Homo sapiens: one gene and its partners. The protein of the gene in region 2 purifies or fractionates together with the protein of the main gene of each other region. This does not show direct contact. Each region holds a gene or a part of one and is shown on either strand. Other genes may lie near its edges.

Evidence for each region.
Region 1: the proteins of LIN28A (region 2) and LTV1 purify together in Homo sapiens (affinity purification with mass spectrometry; 3 studies listed by BioGRID and IntAct, with this or other methods). This does not show direct contact.
Region 3: the proteins of LIN28A (region 2) and LARP1 purify together in Homo sapiens (affinity purification with mass spectrometry; 5 studies listed by BioGRID and IntAct, with this or other methods). This does not show direct contact.
Region 4: the proteins of LIN28A (region 2) and IGF2BP3 purify together in Homo sapiens (affinity purification with mass spectrometry; 4 studies listed by BioGRID and IntAct, with this or other methods). This does not show direct contact.

The regions. Positions count from the first base shown.
Region 1 is NC_000006.12:143,852,694-143,861,288, reverse strand, and holds part of LTV1 (protein LTV1 homolog), read right to left. Parts: intron 3,987-8,595; coding exon 3,845-3,986; exon of another isoform or gene 3,708-3,844; coding exon of another isoform or gene 3,706-3,707; intron 3,538-3,705; coding exon 3,282-3,537; intron 864-3,281; coding exon 736-863; intron 1-735. UniProt on the Homo sapiens protein: Essential for ribosome biogenesis.
Region 2 is NC_000001.11:26,405,149-26,414,594, reverse strand, and holds the start of LIN28A (protein lin-28 homolog A), read right to left. Parts: upstream 3,779-9,446; 5' UTR 3,704-3,778; coding exon 3,673-3,703; intron 3,210-3,672; coding exon 3,013-3,209; intron 1-3,012. UniProt on the Homo sapiens protein: RNA-binding protein that inhibits processing of pre-let-7 miRNAs and regulates translation of mRNAs that control developmental timing, pluripotency and metabolism.
Region 3 is NC_000005.10:154,813,626-154,818,949, reverse strand, and holds the end of LARP1 (la-related protein 1), read right to left. Parts: intron 5,064-5,324; coding exon 4,854-5,063; 3' UTR 1,345-4,853; downstream 1-1,344. UniProt on the Homo sapiens protein: RNA-binding protein that regulates the translation of specific target mRNA species downstream of the mTORC1 complex, in function of growth signals and nutrient availability.
Region 4 is NC_000007.14:23,340,629-23,349,223, forward strand, and holds part of IGF2BP3 (insulin-like growth factor 2 mRNA-binding protein 3), read right to left. Parts: intron 7,107-8,595; coding exon 6,972-7,106; intron 5,435-6,971; coding exon 5,312-5,434; intron 3,226-5,311; coding exon 3,090-3,225; intron 1,562-3,089; coding exon 1,436-1,561; intron 1-1,435. UniProt on the Homo sapiens protein: RNA-binding factor that may recruit target transcripts to cytoplasmic protein-RNA complexes (mRNPs). This transcript 'caging' into mRNPs allows mRNA transport and transient storage.

The DNA of each region.
Region 1 (8,595 bases), on a different chromosome or scaffold from region 2:
TCCTTATATTTCACACCCTAATAATATTCATGCTTCTATCAAAACAAAACTTTTAAGCAAAATAAATAAAAGTTAAAAAAAAATTAAAAATTGGCCAGGCACAGTGGCTCAGACCTATAATCCCAGCACTTTGGGAGACCGAGGCAGGCATATTACATGAGGTCAAGAGTTTGAGACCAGCCTGGCCAACATGGTGGAACCCCATCTCTACTAAAAATACAAAAATTAGCTGGGCATGGTGGTGTGCACCTGTAATCACATCTGCTCAGGAGGCTGAGGCAGGAGAATCACCTGAACCTGGGAGGCGGAGGTTGCAGGTGAGCTGAGATCGCACCACTGCATTCCAGCCTGGGCAACAGAGCAAGACTCCGTCTCAAAAAAAAAAAAAAATTTAATAAACGAATACACATTCTACCATGACTCTTCTCCAGTCAAAGATACGGAGAAAGTGGCTCCTCGTATATTCCCATTACGTTCTACTTCAGAACATTTAACACCAAAATGTAGGCAAAACAATGAGCTATACATGACCCAAGTTTATGGAAAATGTACCACTTTCTTTTTTCCGCCCTATCTTTTTTTTTCCCCTTTTCTTTTTTCCTTTTTCATTTTCTCAATATGTATTTTGACTAGGTTAATTTTTTCCTCAATTCAGTTATACTATAGACCTTTCTTTGGAATTTTTTCTTTTTTAAAAAAAAGAACAGCTAAACAAGGAAGGAAAAGTCACTATACTTCTCTGCCTTCTCTTTATAGTAGTCATTCAAAACTTCCTGTAAGCGATTGCTGTCCACTTGAATAGAACCTTCCAATTCTGCATTATCCAGAGCTCCAATTTCATCATCATCATATTGCTCATAAAACTTGAATATAAACAGAGAAAAGATACCATGAAAAGCAAATGTACTCAGTAAGACTACACACTTAAAAATTTTTTTACATTAACTTTATTCTTACACAATAGTTATTCAGGTACTATCACAATTACCATTAAAATATCAGTAGGGATTTAATGCAACAATAGGATGTGGAAGATATTTCTGCTCAGTACTTTAAGACTTACATTTAGCCTAAAAATAGGCTTCCATTTAACATGTAAATGAAAGGCATTATTCCACTCAGCTTGGAGAACAAAATGCTAGGCAGCACAGATTACGTCAGAACATTTTTGAAGATACTTTTTCTTTTTTTTAAGTATCTCACTGTCTCCCAGCCTGGAGTACAGTGGCGTGATCATAGTTCACTGCAGCCTCAAACTCTCAGGCTCAAGCAATCTTCCCACCTCAGCCTCTCAAGCAGCTGGGACCACAGGCACATGCCACCATACCAGGCCATTTTATTTATTTTTTTAAATAGAAACAGGGTCTGCACTGCCCAAGACAGTCTCAAACTCCTAGGCTCAAGTGATCCATCTGCTTCGGCCTCCCACAGTTCTGAGATTATAGGCACGAGACACTACGCCTAGACTAAAGATATTTTCATATTCCTTAGTTATGCAAACTAAAAGATTGTGCAACTGAAAATTCACCTACTAATGTATATATTTGTTCTTGTTTAGACAATAATTACTATATTATGCAAATGGTGTTGACACTGTTAAGCTTTGACAAAGAGTAAATGGGGGGGATATATCTCCTGAAGAGTGAGATTTGTAGCAACAGTTTGTTTCTCCCTCAAGAGAAGAGGGAAAATAGTATTAGGTGAGAAGGTAGCAAGGTAACAGCCTTTATTTTAGATTCACCTGGATGGCAACTATTCCTTCATTCATTTATCATTTATGGAACACTTTAAACTTCTATTACATGCCAAGACACCATTTTAGGCTTTTGGATGTATCCGTGAGCAAAATACAAAGAACTCTCTGCCCTTGGGGAATTCACATTCTAATCTGAGACAAATCTATATATAACATACATAATAAAGCACAACATTAGAGATGATGTTAGGAGGTGTTATGTGCTACAGAACAAACAACAGGATAGGTGGGATTAAAAACCTGTATAAACAGTCTATAGGTTGGGATTATAAACCCTGGAGCTAATCTGTTACAACAGAACCAAATAGAGTATATGAAAATACAAGCTTTCAAAAGTGTCTTATACTCTACTTCCATTCTATTCCTCAGTGTTAGTTATGTCTGAAAACACCAGATGAGAAACGGAAAGAAATGGAATTTTGATGTGCTCAATCAGGCCAATACTTCAGAAATATAGCATCTTATGGATTACTGTTGGAGAAATTCAGAATCAGGATGTCAGAATTCAAGGGGGAAAATAAGAACGTTTGATCAGCCAACTCCTTTTGACCTACACACGTTCTTTCCAGAATCAAAACTAGGGTGACTGGCCTCATAGAATATGTAAAGGGAAAACGACAATAACTAAGGTGCTTTTATGCTCTGTTTTAATAAAGAGATACGCTGTTTTCAACACTCAAAAGTTTTAGCTTTGGGTCCCAATCTCTCTTTTTAAAAAATAAAAAAAGAAAAATAACAAAAAAAAACAAGGCACACAGCAAGGCGCCTAACATCTACTTAGCTCGCGGGCGGATCAGCTGACTTGGCCAGAGGATGTTCCAGTTTCCAGATCAACCTCAACCCGCTCGGCTTCGTCAAGGTCCTTGAGTGGACTGCTTCTATCTTTAGAGTCACCTTGAAGGAAACTATTCCTTCATTCATTTATCATTTATGGAACACTTTAAACTTCTACTACATGCCAAGACACCATTTTAGGCTTTCAGATGTATCGTGAGCAAAATATAAAAAACTCTCTGCCCTTGGGGGATTCACATTCTAATCTGAGACAAATCCATATATGACATACATAATAAAGAAGCACAACATTAGAGATGGTGAGGGTTTAAGGGCCACTTCTGGGGGTTTTAAGGGCCAAATAGAAACTCAAGTGAGTTGTCCTACCACAGTTAGTGAGAATAAAACTATTACAGCTACTTTTGGTTACCCATTCAGGTTGAATGAGGCATCATTTGAGCCACCTCCTGGTGTAAGCGTGTGATGTAAATTGGAAAAGTCACATCCTCCTAACCAATTACTCTTCTTCTGCACAGTTCTATGCTCCCTTTGCAGTCTTTGTGCTCCTGTACTGCACTGATACCCTTCTGCTTTATGCTGGCTACACGAACCTATAGCTGGATAGTTGTAAACTTCCTATGATTGACTTTGTGGTTGGTGAGCACTTCAACCTGGGCTAAAGCTGACAGGTATTAAAAAAAAAAATTTAACATAAGATAGTACTAAAGCATCCCTTATGTGGGGACCTTACCTTCTCAAACCTCTCATCATGTAGGGTCAGCTGTTCATTTCTCCTCATGACTGAGGAAGTCATCGAATACTCCGTGAAGCGACTCTTTGTTTCCTCACTCCAGAACAAGTGATCTGCTATAGCTCTGTGAGTTTTTCCGGGCACAGACATACAGTCTTCATCTGACAATAGGCCTGCAGAGTCATAGTCATCATTGCTATCTCCCTTCTCATCATCCACATCTTCCCACTCGCTGTCATCTTCATTCTCAGATTTCCTAAAGTAAAGGTCATAAATTACCTACCAAAACAACTTAAAAAGTAACAGAACAAAACCACTTTACACAAGTAAAATTGGAAGGTATTTCAGGAAGGGTTCTTGTCTAGGCAGGAAGAGTGAGGGTGTTTGATCAATCTGGTTTGGTAGGAAAAGCAATGAATCTCACATTTTCTGCTCTAAAATACAGAAGTCTCAGATTAAATGCTCTTGAAGGTCTCTTCCAACTGTAACGTTCTATGGTTACCATCCCACTGAAGCAGTAACACTTAGGTCATCATCTCTGCTTTGAAACAAACCACACATACTGTATATCCATTCCCTCTTCCTCTCCTGTTGCCTTATTGGCCTGAAGAATAAAGTCATCCTCAAGCAGATTATCTGGATCATCAAAGTCAAAATCATCATCAAGAGCTGCAACAATGTCAGGATCAAAATCCAGTCGAGGTCCTAGAAGGAAAACAAAAATTAAGCAGTAATTCCCAAGATAGCAACAATTCATTCACTTAACTCACAATATAAGGACCTATGATAGCAAGAGTCTATTAATATATTGAGGATAAAAGAACGATTAAGAACTAAGTTCAGTCTAGTGAAGAATAAAGAATGAACACTCCAAGACAAAAAAAGGAAACAAAATGCTGCCTCAGCCCCAGTCAGGACCTTATAAATAAAACTCCCATCTTCCTGGGACAGAGCACCTGGGGGAAGGGGCGGCTGTGGGCACAGCTTCAGCAGACTCAAACGTTCCTGCCTGCCGGCTCTGAAGAGAGCAGCGGATCTCCCGGCACAGTGCTCAAGCTCTGCTAAGGGACAGACTGCCTCCTCAAGTGGGTCCCTGACCCCTGTGCCTCCTGCCTAGGAGACACCTCCCATCAGGGGTCAATAGACACCTCATAGAGGAGAGCTCTGGTTGGCATCTGGCGGGTACCCCTCTGGGACAAAGCTTCCAGAGGAAGGAACAAGCAGCAATCTTTGCTGTTCTGCAGCCTCTGCTGGTGATACCCAGGCAAACAGGGACTGGACTGGACCTCCAGCAAACTCCAGCAGACCTACAGCAGAGGGGTCTGACTGTTAGAAATAAACCTAACAGAAAGGAATAGCATCAACATCAACAAATAGGACGTCCACACAGAAACCCCATCCAAAGGTCACCAACAACAATGACCAAAGGTAGATAAATCCAAGAAGATGAGGAAAAACCAGCACAAAAAGGCTGAAATTTCCAAAAACCAGAATGCCTCTTCTCTTCAAAGGATCACAACTCCTCGCCGGCAAGGGAACAAAACTGGACGGAGAATGCGTTTGATGAATTGACAGAAGTATGCTTCAGAAGGTGGGTAGTAACAAACTCCTTGGAGCTAAAGGAGCATGTTCTAACCCAACGCAAGGAAGCTAAAAACCTTGAAAAAAGGTTAGAGGAATTGCTAACTAGAATTACCAGTTTAGAGAAGAACATAAATGACCTGATGGAGCTGAAAAACACAGCAAGGGAACTTTGTGAAGCATACACAAGTATCAATAGCCGAATTGATCAAGTGGAAGAAAGGACATCAGCGATTGAAGATCAACTTAATGAAATAAAGCGTGAAGACAAGATTAGAGAAAAAAGAATGAAAAGGAACGAACAAAGCCTCCAACAAATATGGGACTATGTGAAAAGACCAAATCTCTATGTTTGATTGGTGTACCTGAAAGTGATAGGGAGAATGGAACCAAGTTGAAAAACACTCTTCAGGATATTATCCAGGAGAACTTACCCAACCTAGCAAGAGAGGCCAACATTCAAATTCAGGAACCACAAAGATACTCCTCGAGAAGAGCAACCCCAAGACACATAATCGTCAGATTCACGAAGGTTGAAATGAAGAAAAAAATGTTAAGGGCAGCCAGAGAGAAAGGTCGGGTTACCCACAAAGAGAAGCCCATCAGACTAACAGTGGATCTCTCAGCAGAAACCGTACAAGTCAGAAGAAAGTGGGGGCCAATACTCAACATCCTTAAAGTAAAGAATTTTCAACTTAGAATCTCATATCCAGCCAAATTAAGTTTTGTAAGTGAAGGAGAAATAAAATCCTTTCCAGATAAGCAAATGCTGAGAGATTTTGTCACCACCAGGCCTGCCTTACAAGAGCTCCTGAAGGAAGCACTAAATATGGAAAGGAAAAACTGGTACCAGCCACTGCAAAACGTACCAAACAGTAAAGACCATCGATACTAAGAAGAAACTGCATAAACTAATGGGCAAAATAACCAGCTAGCATCATAATGACAGAATCAAATAACACATTACAATATTAACCTTAAATGTAAATGGGATAAAAGCCCCAATTAAAAGACACAGATTGGCAAATTGGATAAAGAGTCAAGACCCATCAGTGTGCTGTATTCAGGAGACCTATCTCATGTGCAAAGACGCACACAGACTCAAAATAAAGGAATGGAGGATATTTACCAAGCAAATGGAAAGCAAAAACAGCAAGTGTTGCAATCCTAGTCTCTGATAAAACAGACTCTAAACCAACAAAGATCAAAAAACACAAAGAAGGGCATTACATAATAGTAAAGGGAACAATGCAACAAGAAGAGCTAACTACCCTAAATATATATGCACCTAATACAGGAGCACCCAGATTCATAAAGCAAGTTCTAAGAGACCTACAAAGAGACTTAGACTCCCACACAATAATAATGGGAGACTTTAACACCCCACTGTCAATATTAGACAGATCAACGAGACAGAAAATTCACAAGGATCTTCAGGACTTGAACTCAGCCCTGGACCAAGCAGACCTAATAGACAGTGACGTAACTCTCCACCCCAAATCAACAGAATATACATTCTTCTCAGCACCACATTGCACTTATCCTAAAATTGACCACATAATTGGAAGTAAAACACTCCTCAGCAAATGCAAAAGAATGGCAATCATAACAAACAGTCTCTCAGACCACACTGCAATCAAATTAGAACTCAGGTTTAAGAAATCCACTCAAAAATGCACAACTACTTGGAAACTGAACAACCTGCTCCTGAATGCCTACGGGGTAAATAACAAAAATAAGGTAGAAATAAATAAGTTCTTCGAAACCAATGAGAAAAAAGACACAACATACCAGAATCTCTGGGACACAGCTAAAGCAGTGTTTAAGGGGAAATTTATAGCACTAAATTCCCACAGGAGAAAGCAGGAAAGATCTAAAATCGACACCCTAACATCACAATTAAAAGAAGTAGAGAAACAAGAGCAAACAAATTCAAAACCTAGAAGACAAGACATAACTAAAACACAGCAGAACTGAAGGAGATAGAGACACGAAAACCCTTCAAAAAAACCAATGAATCCAGGAGCTAGTTTTTTGAAAAGATTAACAAAATAGATAGACTGCTAGCCAGACTAATAAAGAAGAAAAGAGAGAAGAATCAAATAGACACAATAAAAATTGATAAAGGGGATATCACCACCGATCCCACAGAAATACAAATTACCATCAGAGAATACTATAAACACCTCTATGAAAATAAACTAGAAAATCTAGAAGAAATGGATAAATTCCTGGACACATACACCCTCCCAAGGCTAAATCAGGAGGAAGTGGAATCCCTGAATAGACCAATAACATGTTCTGAAATAGAGGCAGCAATAGCCTACCAACCAAAAGAGAAGCCCAGGACCAGACAGATTCACAGCCAAATTCTACCAGAGGTACAGAGAGGAGCTGATACCACTCCTTCTGAAACTATTCCAAACAATAGAAAAAGAGGGACTCCTCTCTAACTCATTTTATGAGGCCAGCATCATCCTGATACCAAAACCTGGCAGAGACACAACAAAAAAAGAAAATTTCAGGCCAATATCCCTGATGAACATCAATGCGAAAATCGTCAATAAAAAACTGGCAAAACAAATCCAGCAGCACATCAAAAAGCTTATTCACCACAATCAAGTTGGCTTCATCCCTGGGATGCAAGGCTGGTTCAACGTAATCCATTACATAAACAGAACCAATGACAAAAACCACATGATTATCTCAATAGATGCAGAAAAGGCCTTTGATAAAATTCAACACCCCTTCATGCTAAAAACTCTCAATAAACTAGGTATTGATGGAACATATCTCAAAATAATAAGAGCTATTTATGACAAACCCTCAGCCAATATCATACTGAATGGGCAAAAGCTGGAAGCATTCCCTTTGAAAACCGGCACAAGACAAGGATGCCCTCTCTCACCAATCCTATTCAACACAGTATTGGAAGTTCTGGCCAGGGCAATCAGGCAAGAGAAAGAAATAAAGCGTATTCCAATAGGAAGAGAGGAAGTCAAATTGTCTCTGTTTGCAGATTAACATCACTGTCTATTTAGAAAACCCCATCATCTCAGCCCAAAATCTCCTTAAGCTGATAAGCAACTTCAGCAAAGTCTCAGGATACAAAATCAATGTGCAAAAATCACAAGCATTCCTATATACCAATAATAGACAAACAGAGAGCCAAATTGTGAGGGAACTCCCATTCACAATTGCTACAAAGAGAATAAAATACCTAGGAATCCAACTTACAAGGGATGTGAAGGACCTCTTCAAGGAGAACTACAAACCACTGCTCAAAGAAATCAGAGGGGACACAAACAAATGGAAAAACATTCCATGCTCATGGATAGGAAGAATCAATATCATAAAAATGGCCATACTGCCCAAAGTAATTTACAAGATAATCCTAAGCAGAAAGAACAAAGCTGGAGGCATCACACTACCTGACTTCAAACTATACTACATGGCTACAGTAATCAAAACAGCATGGTACTGGTACCAAAACAGATATATAGACCAATGGAACAAAACAGAGGCCTCAGAAATAACACCACACATCTACAGCCATCTGATCTTTGACAATCCTAACAAAAACAAGCAATGGGGAAAGGATTCCGTATTTAATAAATGGCATTGGGAAAACTGGCTAGCCATATGCAGAAAACTGAAATTGGACCCCTTCTTTACACCTTATACAAAAATTAACTCAAGATGGATTAAAGACTTCAACGTAAGACCTAAAACC
Region 2 (9,446 bases):
TTGTTATAGAAATCTCTTTGCTTTTTGTTTTGTTGTCGTTTTGCTTAGTTTTTGGCTGGGGGTGGGCTTTTCCCCCCACTCATCTACTCTTGAAGAGGATATTACAGCATTTGGGAGAGAGCATAAGAACATTAGTTAACAGGGCATTGGGATCCTAATAACCCCAACTTTGGAAAGGAAAAGAAAATGTTTTTAAATTGCCTTTCCCCCTTCCTCTTTATTTGCAAAGGGGCTCCCTGACCCCCTCCCTCTGGTAGATGCTATCTTAGGACAATTACCTTCTCACCAGCCCACCCCAACCCCAGGGTGCCCAACCCCAGCAGCCAAAGAATGGGAAGTTTTGTTAAAGATTTCTTACCCTCTGCTTCGGGAACACTTTCCTCCTCCCCCAGTAAACAATTTATCCTGTGTTTACTAAATTCCTTTACCATAAGATTTCCAGAGAGTCATTTCTAATTTCACAAATGCAGAAGAGTGGTGGCTCATGCCTGTAATCCCAGCACTTTGGGAGGCCAAGGCGGGCGGATCATCTGAGGTCAGGAGTTCAAGACCAGCCTGACCAACGTGCAGAAACCCCGTCTTTACTAAAAATACAAAAAATTAGCCGAGCGTGGTGGCACATGCCTGTAATCCCAGCTACTCAGGAAGCTGAGGCAGGAGAATCGCTTGAACCTGGGAGGCGGAGGTTGCGGTGAGTGGAGATCATGCCATTGCACTCCAGCCTGGCCAACAAGAGCCAAACACCATCTCAAAAAAAAAAAAAAAAAAAGCAACAAACAAACAAACAAACAAACAAAAAAACAAGTGCAAAGACTGGAATCACTAATCTAACTTACGGTTAAGGTGGGGTTGGAGGACCCCTGACCCAAGCCTTTCTGGCATGCTACCATTATCAGAGCTACCAGGTAAAGGCTCAGGGAATTTCCACCCATCATTGTGCTTTGTGAGTAGAATGGGAAGAGCTGGGGATTAGAGAGACAAATTCTTAATTCTCTTCCAGCTCAGCTCCCTATTGACAACTTACTCAACTATGGGTTCCTGGATGTTCCAAGAGCCTAAAATCCAGAGTATTTCCAAGCCAGCACATCTGACCCAGCATGGTGTAGACTCAATGCCTGCTCTATGCCATCCAATAGTTTCCCAATTGCTCTAGATCCTAAGGTGAAGCCTGCTGAGGCCCAAGTCCCCATTTGCTCAAACAAACAAACAAACAAAACAAGAAAACACCTTCCTTGGGGTATGTATATCACCAAGGAACCCAGAAGATGAGGGGATACATTCCCCTCAGCCCCTCCCTATCTGGCAGCCTTTGGATGGGAGATGAGAAAACGTTGGGTCTGACTCTTTTATTCCAGCCTCCCAAAGTTGGGGGAGCTGTCCAGTCCCCAGACCAGGAAAGATTTTAATCTCTTTGTGATCAGATAAATGGGAGAGTGGGGGAGGCTTGCTACCCTGCTGAGGAGGGCCATTCAAAGCTGGTTCCTGTAATAAAGTGATTTAATAGATCTAAAAAGGCCAATTCCCTTCTTTCTCCCACAATTACTTCCTGTGGGTTATCATTCACATATGTAAATGAGACAGAGAAGGGAGAAAAGCCACTAGTGGGAAACTAGCTGTCTAATGGGGGGTTGGGGGAATAAGGGTGCTGCAAAGGGGCAGCTCAGTATCCTGCTGCAGGTCCTCTTGGCAGATGTTCAAGTAGCCCACTGACCCCATGGCCCCAACAGTAAGTGGTGGCTCCCCATCTCCCTGCGTCTATTTCCCTTGTTTGTTCCTCACTGAAGGCTGTGCTCAAAGACGTCCCTGCTGCCTCCAACTAGTCCATCCAGCATCTCCCTTCTCTACCCCTCCCCCAAAGAATGCCATCCCTTCAGGCTCCAACCCTTAATCCCCACATCCTCCTTTCCCCTCCCCCACACCTCCTAAAGCCAACCTCCCTTAAGTAACCCCTCCCTGCCCGGCCTGGGTGTCAACCTACACGATCTGGGATTAGCAATTTCTTCTTTCCAGATCCAGTCCCAAACCTCCAAAGATGGAAGGGCCATAGGCAGCAAGCAACTTCCTTTCCATGGTCTTTATGGGTAGCTGGTGGCCCAGGACCACCGGAATGCCTCTAGGATATTCAGGAAGGGGAAGCCTGGGAGGAGGGAGACCTGAAGTCTCTGGCTCCTTGTTTGAGGCCAGGAATGTTAAGACAGCAATCAATGGCTGTCTGGGGCCATAAATGCCAAGCGGAGAATAGGACCAGAGGCCAGCCTCCCTTCACCCCCTGCCCTGCGACACTGAATTTCACCCCCTACTGTGCTGCCCTGCTTTAACTGAGAACTTGGGGTTGCGACCTACCGACTTCCCTCCCAGCCTGGCCCAGGAATGTAAGGAAGGCCTGGGCTCTTTGGGTTTTCCTTCCTCACGGGAACTGGACAGCAAAGACCCCAGTCCTGAGCTTTCAAGCCCCCACAGGGATCCTTCAGGGATCTGCCAAACCCAGTTTTTAGTGACCAGCCAGGTGAGGTCTGCATTAAAAAGGGGATGAGGCTGACTTCTCGGCTTTACGCCCCTTGGGTCCAGTAGCCAGTTGCCCTCACTCTCTCCCGCCTTCTGAGCTCCATTCAGACGTTGGAGGAGCTGGGCTCCCGGCTTAGGCCCGGCATGTGCTTCCCTGGCCGGCCTGCTCGCCCTCCCCCCACCGGCAAGCACAATACAACCTTAGTTTCTGCCACATGGGGTCACCTCCCTGCCCCCTGCCCCTTCCCAGGGGAAAGAGGTAATAGACACGTGGTAAGCCGGAGGGGTTCCCGGAAGGGGGCGGGGGTGCTGATAATTGGTGCTGCCTCCCACTACTCCCCCACGAGATAGTTAACAGGGACTCAGAATTGGGGTGCCGAAGCAAAGACAGGGATGCATAATGAGGGCTCCCGATGGCCCTCAATTCAACTGCGAGCCCGGAGCCCACCCGTGGATATGGGCGCCTAGACGCCCTTCCCTGGGCAAAGTTACCGGAATCAGTCTCACCTGGTGCACAAAGACATCCACTGGGGGGTCGAGCGCGACCCCGGCGCGGGCGGTCATGGACAGGAAGCCGAACCCCATGCGCACGTTGAACCACTTACAGATGCCCGCACCGTGCAGCAGCTGAGGCTCGTCCGCCGCCCGGGCCGCGTCCTCCGGCGCCTCCTCGGGCGCCTCTTCTGCCGCCTTGGCGCAGCCACCTGGAGAGAGGGAGGGCCGGGCACTTAGCTGGGGGGCACGGAATCGGAGGGCCGTCTCGGGCCCCAGGCAGGGAGACCCGAGTATCCAGCCCCACAAGTGGACAGCCAGGAGGGGGCAGCTACCAAGCAACAGAAGAGAAGAAACCTATCCCGGTCGCCTCCCGCGTTCCCCTAGCGTACACCGGGACAGTAGTGCCCCGAAAGTTTTGCTCCTCTTCCCACAACGCGTTTCCCAGAGACTCACGGCGGGACAAGCCTCTCCTCTCCATCCACCCACGTAGTCTGGCGCGCACGCCACTGGGACACCAAGGTTCCTGGCCCCAGAGACGGCCCTATGAAGCAGAAGGCCGCACCGTCTTGGGGTCCTTTGGGCAGCCTAGGACTCAGTTCCCCACCTCCCTTCTACGTGGCTCCTGGCCGCCCCTGAATCCTAAAGTGTCCCCGCTAAGTCCCGAGCTCGAACCTGCAAACTGCTGGTTGGACACGGAGCCCATGGTCGTCGGCTGAGCCCGTGGCCCCGGGCCCCTGGTCGGGCGGCTGCTGGCCCCGGAGAAGTCCGAAGGCAAAGGGTTGGTTCGGAGAAGAAGCTGCTACATCTTCCCCCGCACAATAGCGGTGGGAGGGCCCACGGCTTTTCAAAGGCTCCCAAATTCTAAAAGACAATGACCCAACCCCCCGCGGGCAGCCCCCTCCCCTCCCCTCCCTCTCCTTTCCCCTCCCTTTCCCTCCGGCTCCAGCTCCGGCCCTCCCCCACAACTCCGGTCTCTGACACCTCTGGGGTGTCCCTTCTCAGAACCTTGAGGTTTGACACCCCCTCCCCACACGCACAACTGGAGATGGGTCTGTCTGCCCTAGAAGACTTGAGTACCCCGGAATTTGAGATCCTGCACTTTGGACTCAGTAGGGGTCCCCAAAGCAGATACAGGTGGGGGACCTGGTGGGGGGGGTAGTTTTAAAACCACGTGACTGCACACACACACACACACACACACACACACACACACACACCACCCCCACCCCCCGGGCAGATAATTATACATTCCAGAGAGTTGGGGGAGGGAGGTGTGAGCCTGGCGGCGCTGGCCAATCAGAAACACAAACCACCTGTCAAGGGAGAAATGAATGGGCCCTCCCCCTCCCCCAGCCCTTGAGCTCCCCTCCCCCTCTCTTCCCCCTCAGGCCTCTGAGCTGACCCGGCTGCTTGGAGCTGACCCGCTCTCACCCCCCACCCCCGTGTGCTTAGATAGACCTGGAGTTCTGGACACTGGGAAGCCCGGGATGGGGGAGCAGGGGAGAGGCTGGGGACACACAGGGCTGATCTGTCCTGACCAAAGCGCTGCCTTCCAAAGTCTGTCTGCCTCTGACTACATCTGAATGTCTGCCTCCCAGAGTTTCTGACTCAGAGTTTTTCTGGGCCTCCCCCAGTTAGAAAAGAGAAAGTGCTCTTAATTGATTCGTTGTAAAGAATTCTTCCTTCTTTCCTCCCTCCAAACCTGTGTGTCTAAAGTTAGCCCCAGGTAAGCTCCCTGGAGAGCAGGAGGAACCCAAAGAGTCTTGAAGCTGTTTCTCCACCAGCTGCCTTCTCGTCCTACCCCCACCCCATCCCCATCCACTGCTGAGAGAGGGACTGGGTGGGCTGGTGGGTAGAGGTACTTCCTCTCTACTCTTCACACTCTTAGATTCCTAGGCCCTCCTTGTTTCAGAGTAACCACCCTAAAATGCGCTCCCATTCCGTAGTGGGGCTGGTGGAGGAACAGGACTGGGGGGCCTCCTCATTTGAAGAGGTAACCTCCCCTTCTAGGAGATAAAGACGGCTGGCTAGTGGGGGTGGCTACTGCCCTGGTCGGAGATGGACAATGGCCCGGGGCTCAGTGCACGGCCCTGGCCCTGCCCCTTCACTTCCGGTGTTCAGTTCAAACTGGACAATGCCAGCTCCGGCCAGTTCCCCTCCCCCACCACTACAACCCATTTAAAGGGACAGAGCCTGCTTTCGGGGGCATCCGCTTGCTCTGAATTCAATCTTCTCCACCGAGTGTGCAGAACCTTTTGGAATTCTCACGCTGTGGCTCTGTGTGTGTGTTTGTGTGTGTGTGTGTGTGCACGTGCGGATGTGGGCACATGTGTATTTCAGAGAGACCGGATGAGTGGGGGTAGGGAAGGGGAAGATGGGGAGGAAAGCAAGAGACTGCAGAAGTTATTTCCCTTTCTCTCGTACGGGGTGCTCTCCAAGAAATGAAAACTTGAGCGTAAGGAATGGGAGGTGGGACTTCGTGGGGTAAAAAGGACAAGAGTGGCCCTTTGCTGCTCCGCCTAAAAAATACATATCGTTAACAAATATTATTAGCAGTGCCCCACTCCCATCTGAGGACTCTAATTTAGAATTATCAAGAGTTCTCCTAGTACATCAGCCAAAGCCATTTTTATTTACATAATTCTCCTCTCCCAAAAGTCTTATCTCCCGCTGTTAGTGGCGCCCTTAAAATATATTCGCTCCGTGTACCTCTGTTCCTAAGACTCAGGAGCAAGTGGCTGAGGTCTGGCTGAAGAAAAGGGAGGGAAAGGGGAGTTGAACGCTCTGGCTTCTCTAGGTGGGTTCTCAAGTGATGCGAATTCGGTTCCCCGGGAATGCGCGGCCTGCTTCTCTGTCCAGGGTCCTGAGGGCTCCAGCAGCTCTGTCCACGGTGCTGAATTGAGTCACGCTGTCTTGATTCCCAGCTCACAGTTTTGAGAATAACTTCTTGAGTTCCCACCTCCAAGTCTTTCCCAGAAAACCTGATTTTCCTCAATGCCGGTTCCCGCTGTGGTAACACTGACACATTTCAGATGAATGAAGACACTTTTTTTGGGGGACGGAGTCTTGCTGTGTTACCCAGGCTGGAGTGCAGTGGCACGATATCTGCTCACTGCAACGTCTGCCTCCTGGGTTCAAGCAATTCTCGTGCCTCAGCCTCCCGAGTAGCTGGGATTACAGGCACATGCTACCACGCCCGTCCAATTTTTGTATTTTTATAGAGACGGGGTTTACCATGTTGGCCAGGCTGGTCTTGAACTCCTGACCTCAAGTGATCCGCCCGCCTGGGCCTCCCAAAGTGCTGGGATTATAGGTGTGAGTCACCGCACCCGGCCTAAGATACTTTTTTTGAATGCTAAAGAAATGGCACTTTCGACCGGGCGTGGTGGCTCACGCCTGTAATCCCAGCATTTTGGGGGGTCAAGGTGGGAGGATTGCTTGAGGACAGGAGTTTGAGACCAGCCTGGGCAACATGACGAAACCCCATCTCTAAAAAAAATACAAAAATTAACCGGATGTGGTGGCGCATGCCAGCTACTTGAGAGGCTGAGGTGGGAGGATCACTTGAGCCCAGGAGGCCGAGGTTGCAGTGAGGAGATAGTGCCATTGCACTCCAGCGTGGGTGACAGACTCACCCAGGCCTTGTCTCAAAGAGAGAGAGAGAGAGATTCCCAGTAGTATATGATTTTGTGAGAGAGATGCAGGTATCTCAAACTCCTCTTCAGAAAAATGGGAAACCTACTTCCCATAATATGGCTGTAAAGGGTTAGGAAAGAAGAGATAATATTTTTTGAGTCAAAGAAGACCAAAGTAGAAGAAAAACTAATCTCTGTTTTTAATTTTCTTTTCTTTTTCTTTTCTTTTCTTTTTTTTTTTTTTTTTTTTTTTTTGAGATAGATTCTCACTCTACTGCCCAGGCTGGAGTGCAGTGGTGCGATCTTGGCTCGCTGCAACCTCTGCCTCCTGGGTTCAAGTGATTCTCCTGTCTCAGCCTCCTGAGTAGCTGGGATTACAGGTGCCCACCACCATGCCTGGCTAATTTTTGTATTTTTAGTAGAGACAGGGTTTTACCATGTTAGCCAGGCTGATATCGAACTCCTGACCTCAGGTGATCCGCCCACCTCGGCCTCCCAAAGTGTTGGGATTACAGGCGTGAGTCACCACTCCCGGCCTTATTTTCTTAATTATTACCACTTTTTAAAGGAGTACAAGGCATTAGAGTCAGATTACCCATGTTCGAATGTCAGCTCTACTATTTACAGCTCTTCCTTAACCTCTATATTCCTCTGTTTCTTCCTCTGTCCTATAGGAATAATGAGAATACTGAGGCCTCAGAGATATTGTGAGGATGAAGTTAGATCATGTAGGCAAAGCTTTTGAAACAGTTCCTGTCATGTAGTTAGTTCTTCTTCTTCTTCTTCTTCTTTTTTTTTTTTTTTTTTTTGAGACGGAGTCTTACTCTGTCACCCGGGCTAGTGTGCAATGGCATGATCTCAGCTCACTGCAACCTCTGCCTCCCAGGTTCAAGCCATTCTCCTGCCTCAGCCTCCCAAGTATCTGGGATTACAGGTGCCTGCCACCATGCCCGGCTAATTTTTGTATTTTTAGTAGAGACAAGGTTTCACCATATTGGCCAGGCTGGTCTCGAACTTCTGACCTCGTGATCCACCCACCTCGGCCTCCCAAAGTGCTGGGATTACAGGTGTGAGCCACCGTGCCCAGCTGACATGTAAAAAGTAGTACACACTAAGTAGCATGAGGATATACAAAAGTAAAAAAGGAAAGAAAAAATATTCCCTGCCTTCCAAGAAGTTATAGTCTACTTAGGAAGACAAGACTGAAATAGCTAAGCATTGTAGGTTTCTTGTGTACTGGTTTCTGAGAGTAATAATATCTAGGTAAAAGGAGGGTAAATGTACTCTTTAGAGAAGACAAGGGTGTCCGGTATCAACACAAAGAACATCCCTTTCCTTAAGGCATTTTGCTAAGTTCCTTTTGCGCAGGTTTATAGCTTCATAAAAGAGCTGCAAGAGGTCTTAATAATAATAACAATCCATCCAATAATTGACAAATATTTGCTGAGCACTTCTTCCGTGGCAGACATTGTTCTAATTGTTGAGAATACATCAAAGTGCAATACAAACAAAAATTCCTGCCTCTGTGGAATGAGCATTCTGCTAGATAATAATAACGACAGCCAGCATTTATCAGGAATACAGGCACCTTTTTAAAATCTCATTCAAGACTCTCAATAATGCTGAAGAATAAGTATTAAATTTTTACTTTACAGGAGAGGAAACTAAAGCTTAATCGAATCAGTATATTAATAGCTTGCCTAATGTTGCTCAACTAATACATGGCAGAGGCAGATTTGAACTCACACATCTTTGACTGCAAAGCCCATATTATTCCCACAGTTCTAGTATGTTGTTATCATGACTAGTGCCATCACCATTTTACCAATAGTGAAAAAATATACAGGCAGACAAAAAGACTGGAAGGAGACTATATATTCCACCTAGTTGATAAATATAGGACCCAAGTTTGTGATTTCTTTTCCATGGGCCACAGCTCTAGCCTGTCCTTTTTTTTTTTTTTTTTTTTTTTTTTTTTTTTTAAGACAGAGTCTCACTCTAGTTGCCCAGGTCGGAGTGCAATGGCATGATCTCGGCTCACTGCAACCTCTGCCTCCTGGGTTCAAGCAATTCTCCTTCCTCAGACTACCAAGTAGCTGGGATTACAGGTGCCTACCACCATCCCTGGCTAATTTTTTTTTTTTTTTTTTTTAAGTAGAGACAGCATTTCACCATGTTTGCCAGCTGGTTTTGAATGCTTCACCTCAGATGACCCGCCCGCCCCGGCCTCCCAAAGTGCTTGGATTACAGGCATGAGCCACCACACCTGGCCTAGCCTGTCATTTCTACTGATCATTCTTCCTATAGCTCCTTGGCTTTCTAAGTCAAAGAGCTGGCCAGAGCCAAAGCAAGTCCTCTTCTGGGTAATCATCCACACTCAGCTCCCATTTCTGAAGTACTCTGAGAATTCTGTGGTACAGTCGAGAGTGGTGTTCGGAGTGTAATATCCTGACCATCTTCTAACATGAATGATGGTATGCATTTGAGAGAAATATTTCCCATAGTGTGTCCCTCCAGATAGTAATTCCATGGGATGAATAATACGTATTATCAGTTTCAAAACATTTATAGAGTGACATCATTTGGAAAGGTATGTTAACTATGTTTCCTATGCAGAGGTTTTCTTTCTTTCTTTTTTTTTTTTTTGAGATGGAGTCTCACTTTGTCGCCCAGGCTGGAGTGCAGTGGCGCTATCTCGGCTCACTGCCACCTCCACCTCCCGGGTTCACGCCATTCTCCTGCCTCAGCCTCACGAGTAGCTGGGACTATAGGCGCCCACCACCACGCCGGGCTAATTTTTTTATTTTTAGT
Region 3 (5,324 bases), on a different chromosome or scaffold from region 2:
GCCTGTCTGTCTCTGGCCTTGGTGGACCTGGCTCCCTCCCTAGGAGGCTTTTGCCCTCAGCTTGAATACAGTTCCTGGTGCATCAAAGCTGTAAGTTCTCAGCTGCTGGCCTGCACTCATCACCTCTTCCTACAAATAAACATTTGGAAAAAAGTCCATCTTCAATATGCTTAAAGAGAAGGGTAGGAGATAAGGAGAAAGAACAGATACGGTTTTTTTCCCCTTTAAGGCCTTTAGATTTTGAGGTACTGTAAGGGGCCTAGAAGGACAAAAGGCTTTCATTCCCTCTTCCTTTTGGCAGGCAGGTTATCAGTCCTTGGCAGAAGGGCCCAGCCCTATCCTTTTCTGTATCAAACAAAATCCTTGAGGTTGGTATACAAGTTAAGGCTGAAAAAAGGCCTTAAATTCCCAGTAAAGAATGTGAAAGCAAGCATGTAAAATAAACTGGTCTTCATGAATTCCAGTGGATAATTTTTTTTTGAAGGGAGGTGTCTACTACAAGACTTCTAATACTTCAGACATAGCATTTGGAAGCTCAGGCTGTGAAATTAAGCTGCTGTGAGCATTCCTAACGATAATTTGTGAAAGTAAGTTTCAATTAATTCATCTTTCTGTTTTCAAAGTACCAATCCGTCTGCATCAGCCCTGGACACTATCTCCTAAACTTTCCTTTGGCCTGTGGAGGTCACTGGTGGTACTGAAGTACCTGCCAACCTCAAGAACAGTGAAAAAGCACTCTCTGGAAAAACCATTTACCCAAGCCAGGTATGGGAGACAGTTGTCAGATGAACACGTAAATAAGGCCATGCCCCATTTTTAGTTTTGTAATTTATACGGGGAATGGGGGACTCTTTGTTCCATCCCTCCCCAGCATCACATCTCAGGGTTCGGGGCTGACCAGGATTCCGTAAGTCCACATGGTGCTGGATCATTCCTCCTTCACCCCCCTGTGGAAAAGTCTGTTCATAGAGGGGTTGTGGCAACCCTCCATAAGAAGCCTCATCGTTTTTCTTCTTGGCTGTCTCATAACACAATGCAGGCCACAGCCAGGGGATGGAAAACCTGGAAGCTGACAAGTGCGCTGAAATCCTGGCATTATGCTGGACTGCTGTTTTGTGGCACTGGCTATGACTGTCACGTCTCACTTAAGACACAGGGTGGACATGAACTCAAGGCTTGTAGAAGCCCCTGCCTTAGGCAGACTCCTCGAAGCCCAATGGCAGAACCCCTGCCGAGGTTTCATGTGCACATTGAGTGCAGGGTTCCTCCGGATCTGGGGGAACTCTACCAGAAACCCATCCTTCACACCCAATAGCAGTAACCTAGATGGAAGACCAGCCAGTATTTTGCCTTTTCAAGTGTTTATTTTTATACATTTTTTTGTATTAAAAAGAAAAGCATAATTACCACAAATTACAAAGGACTAAAGCAGGACTAGAATAATGAATGAATCACTTCAGCCTGGAAAGCAGATACTCTCAATAATATTAATGTTATAATACAAGCTCATTCAAGTATTTTACATTTTTTTGTCCTTTTAAATATGATATCCTAGCACATAGTAAAGATAATGTACTACGAGCGTAAGGTGGAACCTTCTCCGCAAAGCCAGATGACAAGTTTTCCTCTCCAGTGAGAAATGGGCTCCAAGTTCTTATCTTCTCTGCCATCAGCATGGCTGAAGGGGGAGAGGGTGGGTGTTAGGGAAAATCCAGGGACCCTTCCACACAGGAGGTACTCTGGGGTTCCATTCAGGAGGGTGCCAGATAATTCAGATCACTCTACCCAGGCTTTTTGGCAAAAAACAACCCTCACCCTCCGTAACTAGTCATCTTCCTTGTCCCTCCTCCTCACTTCCCTTCCAGGGCCTTCTAAGCAGCTTACTTTCTTTTGTAAAATCAATCACCAGGAAAGGGGAAAAAAAAAAAAAAAGAGCTACAATGGAACAAAACAAAAACATTTAACAACTTTGACACAGGGGCTCAGCACCTCTATCTGAGCCCCAGGGGTCCAGGCTGGGGCACGGCTGGATGGCCCTTCTCTACTGGTAGTGCCTTTGCTCCCAAGTGCAGGAAGAGGGCTAAAGAGAAACCTGCCCCTTAACAGGGCTGAGGCACACAGACCTGCTGATGTCTGATGCCCAGAGGTTATGTTGGCATGGACCAACCTTGGAAGGGATAGGATGAACAGAGGGATCTGGGCAGGCTGTTGCTTTATCTCAGGTCTTGGATCCCCATGGGACGATGGTAGGTGTGAAGTGGTTAGCCCTGATGGCCCCTGCCACTTCTGGCATGCTTGTCACAGATACATCGGTCCTAAATTCAAGTGTCTTCAGAAAGTGAAGATGTAAACTACTCTTTGCAACATTAACTCCTAACATGTTACCAAAAACAAAAACAAAAACAAAAACAAAAAAAAAGGAAAGAAAAGAAAAAGCTCCCCTACCAACCACCAGCCGATGTTGAGATGAAGTCCTCACCTCCCTGCCCCAAAGGGGCTTCCTTTCAGGGATGTCTGTGAAGAAGATGGCAGCCCCCTGGCCTGGGAGTAAACTCTAGGTAATAACAGCCTTTCCCCATACCCTAAGGCTTCCTTGTGCCCCAAACCAGCAGAGGAAAAACACTGAGGTTTCTGTGGTGCTGGATACAGTACAGGGCTGCGTGACCTGAAGGAAAGAAAGGAAAGGAGAAGGGGGTCCAGGAATCCAGTGTCCGGTACAATGTGGGGCAGGCACCAGACTGGGCAGGGAAAGGCCTCGGATACCACCATCATAGCAGAGACCAGACGCTCATCCTTGGTTTGAGACATGAAGTCACAGGAACTGAGATGGGCTTCCCACATACCAACCACTGGGAGGGCAAAGGTGGGGAAGGGCACAGGCTAAAAATTAACAAGGTGCCCAAGGTAAAGGGCAAGCCCTTGTCAGCCTGGGATACTGTCTCCTACTCCCAACCTTTGGGCCCAACAGAGGAACCAGTTGAAAAGGAGGGCCAAAGACATTGCAGTAAGTAAGCAACAGGACAATGAACTCCATGTTGCCCAGATCCCACTGAGAGTGAACGTGCAGTCATGCCCATAACCGACACACATCCCAGTCCATGTGGGTCAGTCCTTCATCACCCTCCCTGCCTTCTGACAACAGCAGACTCCAGCCATTCCATTATCATTCACAGCCCAACCCAAGCAGTCAGTGGCTGAAGAAAGAGAATCAGGTATACTCTATGTCCACATATACCTTCCTGCCACAGGGCTTCACCAACTGGCAGGATTCCCCCCAGCCCCCAACTCCTCCTCATCCCTTGTTCCCAGGCGGGTCAATTGGAGAGTGAGCAGAGATAGATGGCTTGCAGAAGGGTATGCAAGATGGGGAGACTCCACCAGACCTTAGGGAGAGAATGGCATCTTTCTCCACCTTTTAAGAGAGACAGAGCCTCCCTGAGGTCTCAAAGATTTTTCAGGGCAACACAAGAAACGTTTCCAAGCCTCAGCTGCAGGTGTTCACCTTTCCACTCTGGGGTGTGAGGAGATGGTAAGCTGAGGACAAGTGTGTTCCAGATGCAGGCCAACTCTGTTCTCCAACAGTTTGAACCAACTTGGCCTTGGGGTTCCAAGGGTAGGATGAAGGGTGTCACGGCAGGACGGGGCCTGGCGTGAGGCAACAGCAAGCAGAGCGAGGACACAACAGTGGCAGCAGTGTACAGACACAGGACGTCAGCTTCAAACGATGCAACAGCAGGGATATCTTGGGCACGGCTCTGATTCGAGCCACTCCCAACTCTCTTGCCTCCAGGATGGAGGCACTGTACATGCAACAGTCCAGAGAAAGATTCTAGCCAGTCCAAGCCCAGGCACATCCAGAGAAGGTGGGAGCTCTTCGGGTTGACTCCACCGAGGAAAACAGGCATTTGGGTATTTCAGATTCCCGCTCCACAATAAGGCAACTTTTAAAAAAATATTATTTCCAAAAACAAAACAAAAATTCCAAGGGGAGGGGAAAGACATTACTTTCTGTGGATTAGGTGGGGGTTTTCTGATTTTTTTTTTTTTTTTGGTCTTTTATGGTCGATTTTGTCTTTTTTCTTCTTTTTTCCCCATTTTTTCAAGGATGGAAAGGTCAGAGAAAAATAAAATAAAACATCTTTCAATAGTCTTTCCTGGTAAAAGCAGCGTCTCTCTGGGCTGGGGAGTAAAGGGTGTGGGGCAAGGGGAGTGGGGAGAGGCTGAAACCTTCCCCCAAACCCCAGTTTTAGATCCTTTGGTTTCCTTCTCCCAGAAGATGGCAGAAGGGCATGGTGGGAACAGCAGGGAGAAAATATGGTGATGACAAACCCCAGATGATCAAGGGGCTGATGCTCCTGGGGCCCAGAGGTACCACCAGAGCCTTCTATGAGACAGTGCTGGGCAATGGGGGGGCCCGCAGGGCCTTCTTGTGGGCTGCATAGTTGGCTTGAGGGGGAGCAGGAGGTTAGGGGTGGGGACCAGGGTTGCAGCCTACTAGCCTCGGGCAGGGCTGCAGAGTGATTTTGGTAATCCAGATGAACTATCAATAATTTAAAACTTGATATATATATATGTATATATATATAAAAATCTCCCCCCTTTCCCTCCCCCCTTAGAAGAAGCTAGGATGTCAAGAGTCATGGAGAGAGGAGGGGGAAGGGGATGTAGAGGCTCCTGCCCAGGGGTACCTCTGATAGCCCAAATGGTGTATACATTGCTACTCAGCACAAAGGCCTGTCCTAGTAACTCCAGGCCTGTCCCTTCATTGTCCCCTTTCCTGGGACTGGGCACCCCCATGGACTCTTACCCACCCTACCCCTTTCCCCCCTCAAGCCCCAGGGCTAAGGAGCTTTTCACTTTCCCAAAGTCTGTGTGTTCGAGTGCTGGCTTGTCCATTTGGCATCTTCCCGGACAGGCTGGCCGGTGGGTGGTGTAGGGGGTTGGCTGATCATGGCAGCAGGCCTGCTGGAAGACTGGGAGGGGCACCGCTTCCTGCCCTCACCGCCGCCACCTCCTGCTACCACTGAGTGTCGCTTGTGGTTGCCCTCCTCACCCATGGGGGGCTGCAACAGAGGAAGGAGTCACAGGTGATCAGAAGCACTATCTACGCCCTCTTCCTTGCCAGGCCCGTCTAGACACTTCCTACTTTCTACCTCCAAATATAGAAAATGAATGGGTTTAACCTTAAAAATAAATTATAAGTTATTAAGCGTTTCTTCATGCCAAGCCTTGTGCTGTTTTATGCACACTCTCTCATGGGGTCAGCATCACCCTTTGATGTGGACCCATGGACATCTGATTTTATAGATGAGGAAACTGAAGCA
Region 4 (8,595 bases), on a different chromosome or scaffold from region 2:
TCAAAACAAATTCATGAAGGAAGATCCTAGAATGTCACATGAATACCTCCGATTATCGATAATGCAACTGAATTATTAACTACTTTCAAAATAATTTATTCCATCAGGTGTCTGCTGTGCTGCGATTATTTTCATACCATCACTAGTCTCCTATTTCTGACCTCAAGGAAACTGCTATTCTTAAAAAGCAAGTATAAAATATTTCTTTCTTTTTCTTTTTCTTTTTTTTTTTTTTTTCCCAGACAGAGTTTCGCTCTGTCGCCCAGGCTGGAGTGCAATGGCGCAATCTCAGCTCACTACCACCTCTGCCTCCTGGGTTCAAGCGATTCTCCTGCCTCAGCCTCCCAAGTAGCTGGGATTACAGGCACCTGCCACCACTCCGGCTAATTTTTTGTATTTTTAGTAGAGATGGGGTTTCACCATGTTGGCCAGGCTGGTCTTGAACTCCTGACCTCGGGTGATCCTCCCGCCTCGGCCTCCCAAAGTGCTGGGATTACAGGTGTGAGCCATGGCACTTGGCCTAAGATTTATTTCTTATATAACCTACCTCTTTACAAAATAAACATCTGCTTAATGTATGCACGCACACACACAATATAATTGTGCACAAAACTATCTTATCTCTTTGGTTTAAAAAAGTACACTCAACATGGAAAACACACAGAGTCACTCCTGACCTTTCAAAGCCATTGACTTCAGGTGACAAAGATGAAAGAAGCCTTTAAAAAATCTTTTCCTTTAGTATTTAATAATTACTGGCCAGGTAATAGCTCACGCCTATAACCCCAGCACTTTGAGAGGCCGAGGCAGGCAGACCACTGGAGGCCAGGAGTTTGAGATCAGCCTGAACAACATGGCGAAACCCTGTCTCTACTAAAAATACAAAAAAAGTAGCCGGGTGTGGTGTGGCACACACCTGTAATCCCAGTTACTCAGGAGGCTGAGGCATGAGAATCATTTGAACCCGGGAGGTGAAGGTTGCAGTGAGTCAAGATTGTGCCACTGCATTCCAGCCTGGGCGAAAGAGTGGGACTGTGTCTCCAAAAACTTTTAAATAACCACCATGGCACATGTATACCTATGTAACAAACCTGCACATTCTGCACATGTATCCGAGAACTTAGAATAAAAAAAAAAGAAAAAAGAAAAAAGAAAAAAAATTTTTTTAAATAAGAAAAACAATTACTAAGTTTCTTCCCCTGCCACCTCAAAGTCCCAAACTTTTGTTGTGATATTTGAAAACACATGTTGACAACCCCGCTATCCAAAAACTGCAAAATAATCCCATGTCTACTCCACAAAGGGCCAAATAAGAAGGCTCCATTAGCAAGAACTGGAGAGCATATGTTGGCATCTAAACAGATGATCACGCGGGGACTAGGTTTACATTAAGATTTTGCCCAATCACAAAGAAAGCCAAGGCCAGTTATCTTACCTCAAACTGCGGGTAGGGAGGAGTCATGGCTGAAGGGGGCCCTGAGGTGGGAGGTGGCATCCCTGAAGTGGGTGGGAACAGACCCAAGGCGTTCAGATTTAATCCAGGAATTAAATGTGCTTGAAGCTGCAACAGTAAAAAGGCCCCTTAATTTGACAATTAAAAGAATCAAGGGAAAGTGAGCATTTTTAAGTGACAGTATTCAAACTGATCTCTTGTCTAATAAAGAAATGATTGTATAACTCAAAGCAGATGTTCCATGGGACTCTACTTGAGTACATCGTTTACATCTGTTTATATCCCTTGGTATTTTAAAATCTGTGTGCTGGTTTGCCCCCTCCTTGGTCCACAGCTGCATTAAGATATCTCAAGGGAAGCTTTCCTTTCCCTTATGACTAGCCCACAGGACTTAGACAAAACCGTATTCTGCATGCTGTGGGCAAACTAAATATAGACAAAAAGCAATGTATCAGAGTTGAAGAGGTAATCAAGTAAGATTGGTTCATTGAAAAGCAAACCAGCTATTAAGAGATCTTTACTTGCTGGGTAAAACTTAGCAACCATGGGTCTAGAGGCCTCAAAGTTGAGCCCTCTGGAAATCAGGACCCATCCCCATGTAACTACTGCAAGTAAACATATCACTGGAATGGAAATAGGAGCCAGAAAGGGTATTTTAATTTGTTTAATTTTATAAGGGTTGAGGACGTAATGTAGACGGTGGAAGGGAGATTTGAGTGTACTTGAAAATCTTTTTAAAAGGCCTAAGGGGGTTAGATTTAATCCCAGTTGATTCCAGAACATTTGGAGCCAAGCAGTGAGAATTGAAGCAGGTTGGCAAGAAGTCACGTGGGGTGTAAAATGGCTAGCATTCTAGGCTCTTCTCACAAACGCAGTATTTGCACATTTCCCTCGTCTCAGGTTTTGTGTTTCAGATGACTGGCCCAATTGAAAAAAAATTATTTTTTAAAGTCATTTACTTTAAAATTTAAGACAGGCTTTTGAAGTATTCCATTTTCAGCACCATTTCACTGATTAAGGAATGTCAGCAATTTGCTTTAATAGCCTCAGATGCACTACACAGATTGTTTTATCAATTGAAATTCTTGTATCTCCAAGGTTTATATGGCTAACCAAGTTTTAAACCTGTAATCTTAACATTAACTTTTATATGCATTATATCTATTGTAATCCTAATAAGAATGCAAGGTAGGCAGTAGTCCCATTTTACAGATGAGTAAACTGAGCCTCAGAGAGACTGAGTAAATCATATAAGAGAAGAGAGCTGCAGCTCATAAATGGTTCAGCTGTGATTCAAATCCAGTTCATGTAACATTTCTTCTATATTAAACTCTCTCAAATTAACATTGTAAGAGAGGTACTATATTAACCTTTGTAGGTAGACACTAGCCTTACTTCAGACAGAAGGAAGCTAAGGCTCAAAGACTGAATAATTTGCTAAAGTCACAGAGACAGCAAAGCTTAATGTCAAAGCCAGTATCTTCCCTACTATCCCAGGGTACTTGCTGAGGTGCTAAAAATCAACTAGAACTACTTCTAGTGATAATGCCACAAAAGAATTCAATATTAATGCAGTTAAAAACATTGTTTTAACTATTTGTTAAAATAAAGACATGCCCTTCATAACAAAACTAACATTCATAGAAGCAATATCATTTTCATAAGACTCCCTGATTTTCTTCATGATCTCCTCCTCAGCTTTGGCACATGTCTCAACATTGCCTTTAACTGTAATAGTGCGTTCTGGATTATACAGCGTCAATTCCTGCAATCTGCAGAATGAAAAAGAAGGGAAAGAAAAAGAATGAAAATTGGAGGAAGACAGCTAATAATTCAGCCACAGACGGCAATTAAAAACAAACTGTGGAGCCTGGTAATATGTAAAAGTGGGTGGTAAAACATGATGGGAAATGAGTAAGCCCCAAAAGACGTAAATCCGAAACTGTAAAGCTGCAAGAGAGAAGAAAATATTTGCCCTCCCATTTTCTCAACTAACGATTACTGGATACATATAGTTCAATCAAGTCCATATTTTAAATAAAGCTTACTTCTCAACCGCTTAAAGTTGAACCATTTTCACAATTGAACAGTGAATTAAAAAATGACTGGAAAGATGTATAGTTTTTGAGGAAACCAAATACCCTAAGTACATAACCTTTCATAAGTATGTTCCTAGTCTGTATTAACCAATTCTAGGCATAATTGGCATTCTCGTGCAATTGCATTTTCTGGGTCACCAAGCAAGGAGAAAGCATGGAAATATTCCAAAAACACAAGCCAGAATTCCTGTGTCTAAACTTAGTTTTTACCAGTTTCTTTAGAATTTAGATTGAAGTAGGCTGGAGGAATATCAATCCATCTTGACTAAAATTTAAAATGGTTCACCGATGCCATTTAGATAACAAAAACGTTAGATAGTGGCAGAAATATTCAGAAACTCCCTGCGGGACCTAGGTCCTGCTGAACCTTCAAAAGCCACTGAATATCATACCTGAAAACACCTAAGCCTATGCTGGTCAACAGCCTTGAGAGGAAAAGCAATGGGAGACATGTGCCATGGAAAACAGAACTAAGTACATAAATTGAGAGGATATGGATTATTGGTACAAATCTCCTTCATCTTCCTGAAGTTCTCATTTTCACTACTAGTATAATGTCACAGGCTAACCTTGAGCCAGATGAATGGGAAGTTATTCCTTAACATTTTCCTCAAACTTGTTAAAAATGTAAACATTTGTATAATGAAGACTATTTCTCTTAGACTACTTTAAAAAGAAGTCTATAATTCTAATTCAGTCTCAACCTGGCCCTGCCAAGCATTTTGTATTACAGTTTTAAAAATAGCTGCTTCTAGAATAACTTTTGAGATTTTTTTCTTTTAAAACTCTCCCCTTTCTGGGGGTAAATTTAAGACAAAGTAGTATTACTTATTGAATTTACCACTTTGTGGGGTTTTTTTCCCCCTTTCTTTACAACCAAACAGAAGTTTCCTGCTTCCTTACTACCTCCTTTGAAAACTCCTTGTACACAAACACCGTGCAGTCTTTCCCCTACCACTCTTCCTCAGTTCATCAATCTTTTCCCACCTTTTTGAGTACTCTGAGTGAAACTAAGAATGGCCACCCTCAGAAAAACCTTTCCACGTAATTTCAGAGCATCCACAGATTCTAAGTGTGGTAGCCTGCCTCCAAGGTGATTCCTGTCACCCAGTTATCTGTAGTCCCACACATACATACCAAATAGGGCTGACTTGTGTAAACAACATTAGAAAAATGATAGAGTATAACTTCTGAGGCTATGTCATAAAAGACATTGCAGTTTCCATCTTGACAGCTGCCATGTCTTGAGAACACTCAAGCAGCTCTGTGGAGAAGCCCATGTGGGAGGAACTGAGGCCTTCTGCCAACAGCCAGCATCAACTTGTCAGCAGCATTGTGAGACCCCAAGCCAGAACCACCCAGCTAAGCTGCTCCTGCATTCCTAACCCACAAAAACTAGCTGAGCAATTAATGTTCACATTGTGTTAAGCTGTCAAATGTTGGGATAATGCGTTACACGACAATGGATAATAAACTGGGTTATATATTCCAACTTTGGGAATAAATGTCATAAAACATAGTTAAGACTGCTTTAGAAAACATGAATGTAAAGCATTTGGTTCCTCCTGCCAGAAGCAGATAATGCTTTCAATACGGGTCAGAAACCTAACAGGCAGCAAGCTGTATTTGAGAAACCATGTGTAAGTACGGCAGCACAGGCTAGCTGAAGCAGCTGTAAAGTGGGAAGCTAAGCCCAATACACAACATGCAGCTTACAGTGTTGGAAAGTTTTCTTATTCAAAAGCAAAGGAGCACTCACGGAGATATCGTGATTTTAGTGTCTGTGTCTTGCTCAATTTTTTTAAGATTTCTTCCTTCTTTACCAATAAGACGTCCAACAAAGTTATTATGAGCTAAAATCTTCAAGGGGATCTCTTCTGTGCTGTAAATAGAAAAGTGGCCATAAAATTAGAATAAGTAAACCTATTCGTGGGTAAAAAGACAATATTCACTCATTAAACATTTACTTCCTACCTACCATCTGGGAAGCACTGTGTTAGGTACAGCTTAAAACTTGCTGACAATTGGCCAGCATTCTAGCAATGCATGAATAGAAGGGGAGAAAAAATACAGAAGTTAACTTCTAAAATAGTTCTTATTTTATTCACTTCAGGAAATATCTTCAGTGATGGAGTCTCTTACTCAAAACCATATTCCTAAACCCCTACTACCAGAACACAACGTACAAATAAAAAACAGTACCATCCAGTACAAATATACACCTGGAGATATGTGCATAATTTATAGAAGGAAACAGAAGAAACAACAGTGGTTACACTTTGGGGGAAGGGCATAAGAACAGGAAGGGGAGCTTTCACTTTTCATTTTGTAGCTTTCTGAATTTCCCAGTCATATATATATAAAACTGTTTAAAATGTCATTGTGGTTAATAGATGGTGGGCTTTTCCTTTTTCTTTCTTTTTTTTTTTTTGAGACAGAGTCTCCCTCTGGCGCCAGGCAGGCGTGCAGTGGCGCGATCTCGGCTCACTGCAACCTCCGCCTCCCGGGTTCAAGCCATTCTCCTGCCTCAGCCTCCCAAGTGGCTGGGACTACAGGCACATGCCACCACGCTCATCTAATTCTTGTATTTTCAGTAGAGACGGGGTTTCACCATGTTGGCCAGGATGGTCTTGATCTCTTGACCTCATGATCCACCCGCCTCGGCCTCCCAAAGTGCTGGGATTACAGGCATGAGTCGCCACACCAGGCCTATTTTTCTCTATACTAAAATAATTCTTCTTTAAAATTTTTACTTTAATAATTACATTCTTATGATATGGCACCCACATATAATATTACTAAAACATATTTAAAGTTCTCTACAAATTAAGGTTGGTAATGAGGTCCCCACACTAACTCCAGTGCCTTACTCTCGATTCTACTTTCAGTGCAGCGCTGTTCTGTACGCTAAACGTGGCACAGAACCCAACCTTCACTCAAAGTTCCTGTGGAAGAAATAGAGTTCCCGCCTGCATTACCCAGATAAATCTCCAGTTTGCCTTAGAAGAGACTTAGGCACTTCCCCACCTCCACACTCCCTGCTGCTCCAAGGTGGGGCCAGGCAGTGGACAAGAACAGAGCTCCAATGAGCTCCGAGTAAAGGATGAGTCAAGATTTGGGGCTCCTGTTTTGGGTTAATCCAGGATACCTCCTGGTCCTAGGTTCCCCAAGTTGCCTTCTTCTATAGCTGCATTTCTCTTCCCCGTTATCACCACTCGCCTATGTTCAAATGTGAATGAAAATATTTAAATATTAAAAGACATACACTTCACAACCAGATCAACAGTGCCAACCACTGTAGCTCATCAGGATATCATTTCCCTCTGTTTGTTGGCAATTCCCAAGAATTGTGTCAGAGATGTCAAAAATACAAGAGCACAAATATCAACCTCTTTCACAGGACAATCTTCTTTACTCACAATTTTATATCTTGAGCTTCCTTATGCATAATCTCCAGAATAGACTTACAAGCCGCAGAGGTGCCTTCAGGAGTAGAGAGGATAGTAATCGACTTCTCAGCAGCCCCCGCATTTTCTTTACGGTGGACATCGATTCTGATAGTGGGCGCAAGCAGAGAGGAAAACGAGAGCAGTAAGCGTGTATTCACAGTGGAGTCTGTAATTACCAAATGCAAAGTCATAGGGCTTCAGGGCAAAGCAGATGACTCACTTCCCTCAAGAGCATAAACTTTCAATAAGCTGTCAACATTAATGCCTTAAGAGGCAAATTTTAATTCTAGGAACATTCCCCTTTCTCTTTCCTCAATCCAACCAAGCGGGGACATCTTTTCATTCTACCCAAGCTGTTTGTGCTTACAGCTTCCTTTCAGATGCCACAGAACAAATGTCTCATGACAAAGAGCCTGGATTCAATCTGCTCTAAAACAAATAGGAACTGGAGGGCATGCCAAGAGAGGAGTTGGAATCCCATAAGCCAAGTTGAACTGCTTATTCTGCACAGTATATCATTCTTCATTCATTGGATGAGCAGATTTCACCAATCTGCTTCCCCTTTGCAAGGTTCTTCCCACATTTTGCCTCCTTGATAGAGGAAAGTCTGCAACGAACAGTGATAGGAATGGAACCTGGACAGATGGCAATTCTACTTCAAGAAAAGCAAGTGGCCAATAAACTCAAAATGATGTTTAATTTCACTAGTAATTATATGTCTGCCAGCTAAAAGAATGTCATTTTCTTCTAGACTTGCAAAAATTGAGATAGAAAAAATTAAATATGGGCAAGATGATGGGTAACAAGGCACACTCAACACTTTTGGTAGGAGCAAACTGGTCAGCAAAATGCTGAGCACCTTGTGACTCAAGAACTGTATTTCTTGTAACATCTACTCCTGGTAACATCTACAGATATAGTCTCATACATGGGTCAAGAGTGATGTTTCTTACCCTTGGCACTACTGACTTTTTGGGCCAGATTCTTTGTTGTGGATGGGGTGTCTTGTGCATTGTAGGAAATTTACTAACTTCCCTGGCCTGTACCTACTAGATGCTAGTAGCATGCCTCTCTCTCAACTCTAACAGCTAAAAATGTCTCCAGACATTGCCAAATGTCTACGGGGGTTGGGGCAGAGAGATGATCATTTGTAGTTGAGAACCACTGGCATGGGAAAGTTCCGTTTCTAACAGATAGAAAATTAGAATTATCTAATTGCGGGAAGAGATGGTTAAATAACAGTATATTCATATCATACAGATGTTTTTGAAAATGTGGTAAAATTACAAGTACCAACACAGTAAAAAGTCCTTAAGTGAAATAATGCAATTCACATCATGACATGATTTCTTTTTTAAAGTCACACATGTTAGTAGATACAGGCAACAAATCCTATAGAGATACATCCCCAACTTACCAACAGCTACCCAGGTGAGACGAATGGTAACTTTTTAATTTACATATTTATATGTTTTGAATTAAATATAAAATAAGCCTGCCATTTTTTAATAAGTACAAGAAAGAAAATTAGCTACTCAAAAATATGTGTTTTTGGGAAAATTAAGTATTTGTTGAGTTCCTTTGGCCATTCAAA